Linked DNA regions of Homo sapiens: all the other regions are linked to region 2. The links come from fine-mapping of genetic effects on gene expression. A gene starts in region 2. Each other region holds a variant in brackets. All regions are shown on one strand. Distances are between the middles of the regions.

Region 1 (2,685 bases), 700 kb after region 2:
TGTGTTCCTTCCTGATACAATCTATGCCCAACTTTCTAGAAGAAGCCACAATTGTGGTAGCCAGCTTCACAGATGGCCCCCAGTGATTCTCTCCTTCTGGTCTTCATACCCACCCAGGATTGTTCCAAGGTGGGCCAGTGCGACCAATAGAATATACAGAAACAGTGCGATGTTGTATTCCAGATTGGGTTATAAAAGACTGTGGCTCCCATCTTGGGCTTGCTCACTCTCTCATGGATGAATCACTCTGGGGGAAGCCAGTTGCCATGTCTTGACGACACTCAGGCAGCCCTGTGGAGAGGCCCCGGTATCCAGGAACTGAGGCCCTCCTTCCAAAAGCCCTTAGAGAACTGAGGCCTGCCAACAACCATGTGGGTGAGCTGGGAGGCAGATCCTCTGCCTTTCAGATGACTGCAGCCCTGGCCCACAGCTTAACTGCAGGCTCATGAGAAATCCTGGGCCAGAATCACCCACCTAAGCTGCTCCTGGATTCCTGACTCTCAGAAACTGCGTGAGATAACAGCCATGTGAGCTGTTTTAAGCTGCTGAGTTTGGGGGTAATTTTTTAGCAGAGTAATAGACAACTAACATAACTATTCTGACTTTTATAATAATAATTTCCTTCTTTATCATTACAATTTTACCACCAATATGTATGCATCTCTAAACAAGATAGTTTAGGTTTGCATATTTTTACCTATTTTATACATGTATTTTAAAATTGGGTCTTATCTCGATATTAGGCATATCCCTATAGTTGCATATAGCCAGCGCTCATTTTATTTGCAATCTAGAGATTCATTGTATGAATACACCACTTACATACGTATCTGTTCTCCTGTTCGTGGTCATCGGTGTTGTCCTGGGTTTGAGACTATTATGAAAACTGCTGCAGTGAATATTATGGGCATGTTTCCTGGTGCACATTCCACAGGCTTCTCTAAGTTGACCTTGTAGTGCACTCGCTGGCTAAAGGACATCGGCATCTTCACTTTTTCTTTAACATTACTAGATAATGGCCAAACCTCATCAAATAATGCCAGATTATACTCCAATCTGCAGGACGTGAAAGTTCCCATTATTTTACATCCTTGCCAATCCGTGGTATTATTGGTCTTTCTGATTTTTGCCCATCTGGTGAGTATGTAAGTGATATCTCATTGGGATTTTAATTTTGCATTCCCTGGGAGTCAAGAGGTTGTGCACTCTTTCATTTATTGATTGACTACTTGAATTTC[CT/C]TTTTTTTTTTTTTTTTTTTGAGAGATGGAGTCTCACTCTCTCATCCAGGCTGGGGTGCAGTGATGCGATCTCGGCTCACTGCAACCTCTACCTCCTAAGTTCAAGCGATTCTCCGCCTCAGCTTCCCAAGTAGCTGAGATTACAGGTGTGTGCCACCACACTCAGCTAATTTTTGTATTTTTTAGTGGAGACATGGTTTCACTAAATGTTGGCGAGGCTGGTCACGAACTCCTGACCTCAGGTGATCTGCCTGCCTTGGCCTCCTGAAGTGCTGGGATTACAGGCATGAGCCACTGCGTCCGGCCTGAATTTCCTTTTTAGTGACATGCTTGTTCAAGTATTTTATCCATTTTTAAGAAATTAGTTGTCTTTATTTATTTGTAGCAGTTCTTTACATATTCTGGACACTAGCCCTTTGTTGTTATATGCTATACAAATATCTTCTCTTACTCTGTAGTTTATCTTTTCACTCTCTAAAGCCTAATGATGTCTTTTGATAAAAGAAATTATTTTACTGTAATAGGGTTTATTAATCTTTTCCCATATTTGTTTTTTAACATGTAGGTTTTTTTCGTAGTTGATTTTATTAGTCTTTGCCATTATAGTTCCTGACTTTTGAAATCCTGTTTAGAAAGGCATCCCTACTCTGAGATTACACAAATATTCACCTACATGTGGTGGTTTTATTTTTATGTTTTCATTTAAAAATATTTAAACCATTCATCTGAAATTTTTTTAAAGCTTTGGTTATAACATTTTTTTTCCCTGAATGTGATGAATACGGTTAGCAAATTTACAGAATAATCTGACCTCTTCCTACTGTAAATGCTACCCGTATTATGAAGTGGGATCCTATATATTGGCTGTATTTCTGAGCTTTCTCTTTTGTTAATTGCTCATTCTGTTGATTCTGGCACTTTCTGACACCTACTTGTAGTTGTTGTGCTCTGCGGGACACATCTGATAGGGCCTGCTCCTGCACGTTACTCTTGTTTTTCGGCATTGTCCTGACATTTTTTACATTTTTGTTTTCTAGATGAGCTTTAGGATCCCTTTAATATTAACATAATTATTTTTGGCTGTGTTGTAGATTTGTCTGTGACTTGTTAGAAATTAGTGTTCCCACTTAGGAATGTGGCATGTCTTGCCATTTACTTTTGAATCTTTTTATGTCCCTCAGAAAAATTTTGTAGGTTTCATTTCAATAGAGGTCTGGCAAATTCTTATTCTAAGTTTTTAAAATTTTTTGTTTCTGGTGTGAATTGGCCCTTTTCTCCTATGCGTTTTCTGATGCATAGGTTTTCAAACCTCCACTCCTTCAGCGATAAAGGCTCCCAAGGAGTGGCTGAAGGCTGGGGAGCATCGCAGCTCTGCCCCATCTGTTTACCGTAACAGGTTTTGTTTATAGAAATCATTCTCTTTTGCTAAAAAAAAAAAAAATTTCC
Region 2 (2,685 bases):
ATCAATCACTTCAGCTAAAAGTTTATCTCTCCAAGAAGACTGAGTGACTGAGTCCCAGGGCCCAATCCCCAACCCTCACACCGGCAGCAGGCATAAAAGGGGAGGGACCTTCAGACAAAGGCACCTTTCCATCTTCAAGTTGCATTCCACAGAGGTTCCTAGATTTCTTGAGGTCATTTTCAAGGCAGAGAGATGCCCTAACTAGAGCTTTAGCTTCGCCCTGATTTTTTCGTTTGCTTATTGTTTACCCTTGGGGATAACAGCAAGTACAAAATCTGATTCCAACTTTTCCCAGCTCAAAACCTTCACAAACACTTTCACTTGTTCCCGAATCAACACCTCACAGGCCTTGCTTTGGCAAACGGCTCCTGATCCCAGCTTCCTGGCATCTCCCTCCTTTCCTCCTCCCATTCCCACCACCTGTCTCAGTGCACTCCCAGGATGGGAGCTGACATGGACTGTATTTCTCAGTCTACACTGCACATTTCCTAGGCAGAGACTAGGGCCGTCTTGGTGCTTGTTGCATGAACAGATTTAGCTCCACCCTGACACGTAAACTGGATTTCCTGATATCTCCTTAAACAGGCCTTCCGTAGCCAGGGGGGCATGTCGAGCCCGAGTGTCGGTGTATCTTAAGTTTGTCTGGGCCTCCGTTTCCTTAACTCTAAAGTGAAGAGTTAGAACACAGATTGTATTTAAACACCCTGGTTGGGAGCTGCAGTGCCCTGAATTCCCCCTCTTACTCCACCCCCTCAATACTGACACACAGCCGACACTCAATAAAAGTTTGTTGAATTGACAAAAATAAATTTGCGGCTTCTTGCCCAGTACTTGGCACTTAGAGGCCCTCAATAAATGACTATCGAGTTTATATTTCATCTCCCCAACGCATTTGTGACATTCTTAAGGGCGTGAACCATGTACTCAATAGGGCCCTGATGATAGAAAAGAAAATCAGCTTGGTCCCTGTTCTCAAGTTCATAGTTTAGTGTGGGAGACTAATACAATAACTCGCCGATTCAACAGATATTTTTCCAACGTCCGTATGTATTGGGTGGAAAAGGTGAGGCAAGAGTTGTATTTCCCAGACTCCTGAACAGGTTGCGAGATGATTGACTCCTGAGGGAGACCTTCTCACCTTTTCATTGGTTGTCGCTGGCCCTCTCGTCTATCACCCAACCAACCCCGAATGCCTCTTGTAAGCCCCACCTCCGGCAGCCAGCCAATCAGAAGTGCCGGGGGCCAGGGTGCTGCTGGGGCACTGACGCGGTTTCGATTCTAGCGAAAAATGATTTGGCTCGGACTGTCCCGTGACAGGCGGTGCGAGGAGGCCAGGCCCGCGCCCGCCGAGCCCTAGGGCCGCTGCTGCCGACAGCCATGGAGGACGAGCAGCCTGACAGCCTGGAGGGCTGGGTGCCGGTCCGGGAGGGCCTCTTCGCCGAGCCCGAGAGGCACCGGCTGCGCTTCCTGGTGGCCTGGAACGGCGCGGAGGGCAAGTTCGCTGTGACTTGTCACGACCGTACCGCGCAGCAGCGGCGGCTGCGCGAGGGGGCCCGGTTGGGGCCCGAGCCCGAGCCCAAGCCTGAGGCCGCCGTCTCCCCGTCCAGCTGGGCCGGCCTGCTCTCGGCCGCGGGGCTCCGCGGCGCGCACCGGCAGTTGGCGGCGCTGTGGCCGCCTCTGGAGCGCTGCTTCCCGCGGCTGCCGCCGGAGCTGGACGTGGGCGGCGGCGGGGCCTGGGGTCTGGGGCTCGGGCTGTGGGCGCTGCTGTGGCCGACGCGCGCGGGTCCCGGCGAGGCGGCGCTGCAGGAGCTGTGCGGGCAGCTGGAACGCTATCTGGGCGCGGCGGCCGACGGCTGCGGCGGCGCCACAGTGCGCGACGCACTCTTCCCGGCTGAGGGCGGCGCGGCCGACTGCGAAAGCCCGCGCGAGTTCCGGGAGCGGGCCTTGCGCGCGCGGTGGGTCGAGGCGGACGCGCGGCTGCGCCAGGTAAGCGAGGCCCGGTCGCCGGCGTTCGTCCGCGCTTCCATGGCCTGGGACACTGTGGGAGGCTCCCCCGGCGCCGAGAGCCCTGGCTGACGGCTGACGGGGAGGAGCCGGCGGGCGGAGAAGGCCGCGGGCTCCCCAGTGCCGTCACCTGCGCGGGACCGCTGCGGGAAACCGGCGGGAGCTGCGGGAGGGTCTGCAGAGAGGACAAGCGAAGTTAGAGCCTAGTGTACTTGCAGCTGGGAGCTGGGCTAGGCCCCCAACTTTTGCCCTGAAGATGCTGGCAGAGCAGGATGTTGTAACAGGAAATGCCAGAAATATTGCAAGCAAGACTGAAAACAACCCATCCATGTAGGAAAGAATAACACGGACTAAATGTAAGCAATTCCTGTGTATGAGGGGACGTCGCAAATGGGATAAAATGGTTTAGAGGAAGAAATGGCTTTTAGGAGATAGGGTGTTTTGTTTTAAGTAATATATACTTGGTCAAATGGAAAGCCGGCAGAAGGTGAACTTTATTCATCAGTTTGGAATGACCGCATTAGTGCCCTTTTAAGCTTGAAAGAGGTAGTTTGAGAGAGAGTAATTATTTGAGTGGTAAACTTACTGAACCTAAGGGGAGGGGAAGTACAAGTTCACAGAAGGGTTTAGGAGAAAATATGCCTTCTAAGTCCACACCCACAGTTTATTAAGGAGAGCCAG
Region 3 (2,685 bases), 24 kb after region 2:
CCCAAGACTGAAGTTAAATTGAGCAGGATAAATTTTTTTTAAAAGATTTCTTTTAGCTGGACAGGGTAATGAAGGAGATACAGCTTCAGAGGTATCCAGGTCACGCACAGTGGGTGAGACTATTCCACCCCAGGCCTCCGTAACACTCTTCAGGATGGGAGGGACAGATCACATTTGTCTTGAAAAACCGTCATTCTAACAAAAGTGCATGTCTGTTCCTGTCAGTTGCTATGGATTTGAAGAAGTTAGCAGAAAGGAAGTGGTTAAGCTAAAACATGAGCTATTCAGCTGTCCTGGATTCAACCAGGGAGCTTATCGTTAGCACGTAATCAAGGCATTTGCTTAATGAAGTGATTATTTGTTTAAATCATGGTGTTAACTGATAGGAGATTTCACAATTTCATAGCAGTAATGTCCTGGGAAGGGAAAGTGTTTTATTGATAGTACTAGCTCTGCTTATTCAATTTCAGGATCTATGGATGAAGTGTTGGCCTCCTTAAGGCATGGCAGAGCTCCTCTCCGGAAGGTGGAAGTGCCGGCGGTGCGCCCTCCCCACGCCTCAATCAATGAGCACATTCTGGCTGCCATAAGGCAAGGGGTCAAACTGAAGAAAGTTCACCCTGATCTTGGCCCAAACCCCAGCAGCAAACCAACCAGCAACAGACGCACCAGTGACCTTGAGAGGAGCATCAAGGCTGCGCTCCAGAGAATCAAGAGGGTGTCTGCTGACTCTGAGGAGGACAGTGATGAGCAGGACCCTGGCCAGTGGGATGGTTAGGCTCAAGTTTGACAAAGGCACCTGCCACAGTAGGCTTGAATAAAGTGGGTGAGTCTTAGACCTATCGAAAAGCATACTAACAGGGTGCTGATAGATGGGCCACATAACACCCCGGAAGATCAGCAGGGCCTTGTGTAGGCTGCTGCAGCATTTTTTTTTTTTTTCTTTTTTGAGATGGAGTCTCACTCTGTCGCCCAGGCTGGGGTGCAGTGGCGCCATCTCGGCTCACCGCAAGCTCCGCTTCCCAGGCTGGGGTGCAGTGGTGCGATCTTGGCTCACTGCAAGCTCCGCCTCCTGGGTTCACGCCATTCTCCTGCCTCAGCCTCCCGAGTAGCTGGGACTACAGGCGCCACCACCTTGCCCAACTAATTTTTTGTATTTTTTAGTAGAGACGAGGTTTCACCGTGTTAGCCAGGATGGTCTCGATCTTCTGACCTCGTGATCCGCCTGCCTCAGACTCCCAAAGTGCTGGGATTAC[A/G]GGTGTGAGCCACCACGCCCAGCCTTTTTTTTTTCTTTCTTTTGAGACAGAATCTCTCTGTCATCCAGGCTAGAGTGCAGTGGCACGATCTTGGCTTACTGCAACCTCCACCTCCCAGGTTCAAGCAATTCTCTGTCTCAGCCTCCCGAGTAGCTGGGATTACAGGCATGCACCACCACGCCTGGCTAATTTTTGTATATTTAAGTAGAGACAAGGTTTCGCTATGTTGGCCAGGCTGGTCTTGAACTCCTGACCTCGTGATCCACCTGCCTTGGCCACCCAAAGTGTTGGGATTATAGGCATGAGCCACCGTGCCTGGCTGATGCTGGAGCTTTTATGTGACATGGTGACTCTTAAAACTGGGGAGGGACGTAGAGATGAGAGTTTCACACACCAGCCCATAGGTGGGATGTCAAGACCCATCGGAAGTGTCGCTGGCCTAAGAGAAGAGCACTTATTTCTCACCATGGCTGATCTAGAATTGTTCCCTGATTCTGAAAGAAGTTTACACTACACTGGTAAGCAGTACTATTAGACTACTGACTGTGGCCTTCTGTGCATATGGAATAATGATTTCTCAGATTTGTAGGCTTGAATGTGAATGTTATTTTATCAGTAATCAGAATAAATTGCTTATATTCAGGAGTTATTTTAAATATTTAAATGAAATTTATTTTAGGCACCAAGCACTACATAAACTCATAATAACTATTTGCAATGCATTAGCATCACTCACGGGGTAATGAAAACATACCTTAGCTGCTGTAAAAGCAAAGTCTTCCGTGTCCGGGTGGGCTGAAAGTTTTTAATAAAATTTTAGCTAAACATTTGTTTAAGTGAATACTAAGGATGGAGCAATAGTGTTATTTTCCTCAGGAACTGAAGTCTCATGCTGAAGTATTTTCTCCTTAAAATTAAATTTTTAAAATCAGGGAAGGGGAAGGGACTGATGCAAAGCAGTCCGTTCATTTCTCAGACTGCGAGCATCCCTACTAACCTCATCACCCTCACTCTGGTGATATTACTCCTGGGTCTCCACAGAACAAAAGGAACGCACCTCGTTTACAAAGAAAGTCCTGATTGATATAGAACAGAAATCTTCCTACTTCAGTTTTTTTGTTTTTTTTTTTGAGACAGAGTCTTGCTCTGTCAACCAGGCTGGAGTGCGGTGGCACGATCTCAGCTCACTGCAACCTCTGCCTCCTGGGTTCAAGTGATTCTCCTGCCTCAGCCTCTCGAGTAGCTGGGACTACAGGCGTGTGCCACCACACCCAGCTAATTTTTATATTTTTAGTAGAGATGGGGTTTCACCATGTTGGCAGGATGGTCTCGATCTCTTGACCTCGTGATCCTCCCACCTTGGCCTCCCAAATGCTGGGGGTTACAGGCGTGAGCCACCACACCTGGCCTTCCAGTGTCTTAACTAACT
Region 4 (2,685 bases), 38 kb after region 2:
GACCCTGGGCGTGTCACTTTCTCTGTCTCTACTTCCCATCTGCAAAATGCAGGTGACAGTCTCTGCCCTGTTCTCTCACCCAATTAAAGTCTAATGTGATGGCAGGCAGGAGAGATGAAACTGAGGGGCCACACAAGTTCGAGGTCTTGTGTGGATACTGGTTCTCTTTCCCTCCAAGGCCTGACCATACTGTCCCAACCTGTTGCTCTGGTGGTTTTACATTCCCCGGGCGGCACTAGGAAGGCTTCCTCGCCACTCCCAACTTTAAAATGCATCCAGCTGGGTCTTGACTGGAATGAAAGGTTATTTTTAAAGGTCCTCTTGGTTAAAGGGTTCCAAGTTTTAGTTGATCTTTTTTAGACACCAGGTTTCATGGAGGCAGAAGGAAAGCTTATCAAGGTATAGCAGCCAGTCTTGGAAACACCAAAATCAGGAGACCTCAATTGCAAACTGAAAATGCAGTCCTGGCCCTGCAGCTTCCAGGCAGCACAAGCGGCTGCGATGCTCACGAGTGAATGGCTTACATTCTGCCTGAGTCTGGCGTAAGGTTATGACAACAGTACTGAGACTGGGCTGGATGTCAGAATAAACGAGGGCACGTCACACCAGCTCAAGGGAACACCGTCCAGGTTGCTCCAGGGCCACTATTTTAAAAGAAAGTAAATGAAAAGACACTGAGATCTTCAGAGAAAAGCAGAAGGAATGGAAAGTTCAGTGCTTTTGTAAAAGCTGTTGTGCTTTCACGGCCAAGCCCAACTTACCTTTCCCTTTAAGGGAGTCCTTACTACTCTTAGCTCCAGGGTTGCAACAGCTGTAGAGCTGGACACACAGCAGGAGGAATCCAAGTTCCTCACCTGCTGCCCACAGGATGCTCACCACACTCTTCAGTGCTTGGTGAACTGGGATCATGGGTCTCAACTGCACAGCAGCCCACTGTGGAAATGGCTCTTCCAACATTTTCTACACCTCCACTTCTGGAGTTTTCTAAAGTCACTGCTATCAGAATGTACAAGTGGCTTCAGTAACTATTCTATGCATGTCACCTGAGCATTCTCTTGTCAGTCAAGCGGGCTCTTTCTAGATTCATAAGTCACCTGATAAAGGCAGAGGTCATCTGAAGACCCCAGCGGAAGGTGTTTGGAACCCAGTGTCCACTGCTCCCAGGCAGCCACACACCCAGCCTGCTGCTGGGCAGACCAGGCTGGCTTGAGAATCCCCTTATCCCGCTGCTGGGCCACGGGGCTGACTCATAGCCAGCTCGGCTCTCTGGTCTCCTGGTGCAGCCAGGAGGGAGCTGCTACCAACTGTCCTGAGAGCCGTCTGGAGCTCTGGGGAAAGGGAAGGGCCAGCAGCAGACTACCCCGAATCACAAAGATGGCTGGCCACGCTTTCCACTTCCTGTCTGCCAAAAGCCCTATGTACTCAACCAAAGCCCCCACTCACCTTGCGGGAGCTCCTCTAAAAGTGCCTTGGTGCTCCAGATGCCCAGCCTTCCCTTC[C/T]ATCCACATCCCAAACAAGACTCCCCAGCTCAGAGAGGCGTCTCCGTGAGGGGAAGGGAAGGAGAGCAGGAGGACTCGTGTTCACCTTGGGGCCCAGGGCACCTGGGTTCGGACCCCATCTCCCTCCTTCCTCGGGTTGTTTGCTCATTAATCCAAATTCAGCAGGGAGAAAGTCTAACCACGTCCATGGGAGAAGGTTTCTAGAAGGAGTAGTCCTCTTAGGTGGTTCTCAAAGGGGTGAGGGGGCACCAAAGCCTCCCCCCTGCTCAAGGCATTTAGAGATGTGTGGGGCCAGGGATTCAAGCCATTATTGCCACACACGGGCAATCTCCCAGGGCAGGATGCCAACAGCACCCACAGGCCCGCTGGCCCCACTGAGCAGCTCTGTGAGAGAGGAGAGGTTTATGGCTGCAGTCCCTTCCCTAGGAGAAACTGAAAAAGGCAGGACGCAGAGCTGGGTGGAACACCTCTGTCATGAGGGCCAAGGCTTGTCAGCTGAGCTGCTCTCTCCCCCCGAAATGCCTGTGATTTCTTCCCAGCTGTCCAGACCCATAAGACAATCCTACCCTAGGTACCAAGCCCTGGGCAGCCCCTATACCTGGAATCCCTGGGTCACCATTCCTAGGGGAGAAGGTGATTCGAGGGTCTGGAGAGCCCCAGGGGCAGAGCATCACGGATGGGCTCCAGGGGCCTGAGACCAGCTCCTGCTGCTTCCCCTTCTCCCTCCCTGCCCCAGGGCCACCCGAGCCCCAGCTTGGGTTTGACCAGACAGTGGTATTCATGTCTGTTAACTACCCAGCACAGCAAAGATGGTGCATCATTCGACAGGGTCCCAGCTCTGCTGTGGGGTTTGATTAAAACACTAAATTCTGTGTACACATTTAATTGAACAAATATTTATTAAGCACCTACTTTGTGCCAGACATTGTGCTAGGCACCCTCACTGTGTGCTGTTCCCACAGCACAATCATCTGCTCAGAAATTAAAACCAAGAAAAGGAACACTGTTGCAACCGTACAAACTGGGGGGGCGGGGGGCAGGGGGCAGTAGCGTGGATGCAGGCAACTCCGGGCCAGAAAATGCACCCACCAGAAGCTTGTTTTCCATCTCTCAGAAAGTTTCCACTAAACAGTTGTTTTAAAGCCTCTCGATGTTGACAGAGAGGAATGTTGTTCTCTCTGTGCCC

Which allele goes with the higher level. Positions count from the first base shown, and alleles are read on the strand shown. Sizes are in standard deviations (SD) of each study's normalised expression. Not every link is listed here.
In carriers of allele C in region 1, the expression in platelets of the gene that starts at base 1,279 in region 2 tends to be lower than with CT alone (moderate effect, 0.61 SD a copy in CEDAR).

What was found. PIP is the estimated chance that this variant, and not a neighbour inherited with it, causes the effect.
Region 1: its variant is fine-mapped to the expression of WHAMM in platelets (CEDAR, PIP 0.95).
Region 3: its variant is fine-mapped to the expression of WHAMM in whole blood (INTERVAL, PIP above 0.99).
Region 4: its variant is fine-mapped to the expression of WHAMM in whole blood (TOPMed, PIP above 0.99). The same link has a PIP of 0.9 or more in monocytes.

What each region holds. Positions count from the first base shown.
Region 1 is chr15:83,504,285-83,506,969 of GRCh38, forward strand. All of the region lies in intron 1 of SH3GL3 (SH3 domain containing GRB2 like 3, endophilin A3), which reads left to right. Among named protein-coding and RNA genes, the nearest start is that of SH3GL3, 58 kb to the left of the region's middle. The variant CT/C (reference allele first, on the strand shown) is at 1,239.
Region 2 is chr15:82,808,350-82,811,034 of GRCh38, forward strand. It overlaps WHAMM (WASP homolog associated with actin, golgi membranes and microtubules), which reads left to right and starts at 1,279. Exons shown (of 10, transcript NM_001080435.3): 1 at 1,279-1,986. The coding sequence starts at 1,378. RefSeq lists silencers at 1,535-1,664, 1,685-1,794, 2,015-2,184.
Region 3 is chr15:82,832,759-82,835,443 of GRCh38, forward strand. It overlaps WHAMM (WASP homolog associated with actin, golgi membranes and microtubules), which reads left to right. Exons shown (of 10, transcript NM_001080435.3): 10 at 471-2,685. The coding sequence ends at 778. It also overlaps a transcript of HOMER2 not described here. Among named protein-coding and RNA genes, the nearest start is that of WHAMM, 24 kb to the left of the region's middle. RefSeq lists enhancers at 1-727, 1-40. The variant A/G (reference allele first, on the strand shown) is at 1,257.
Region 4 is chr15:82,846,604-82,849,288 of GRCh38, forward strand. It overlaps HOMER2 (homer scaffold protein 2), which reads right to left. Exons shown (of 9, transcript NM_004839.4): 9 at 2,380-2,685. Among named protein-coding and RNA genes, the nearest start is that of WHAMM, 38 kb to the left of the region's middle. The variant C/T (reference allele first, on the strand shown) is at 1,500.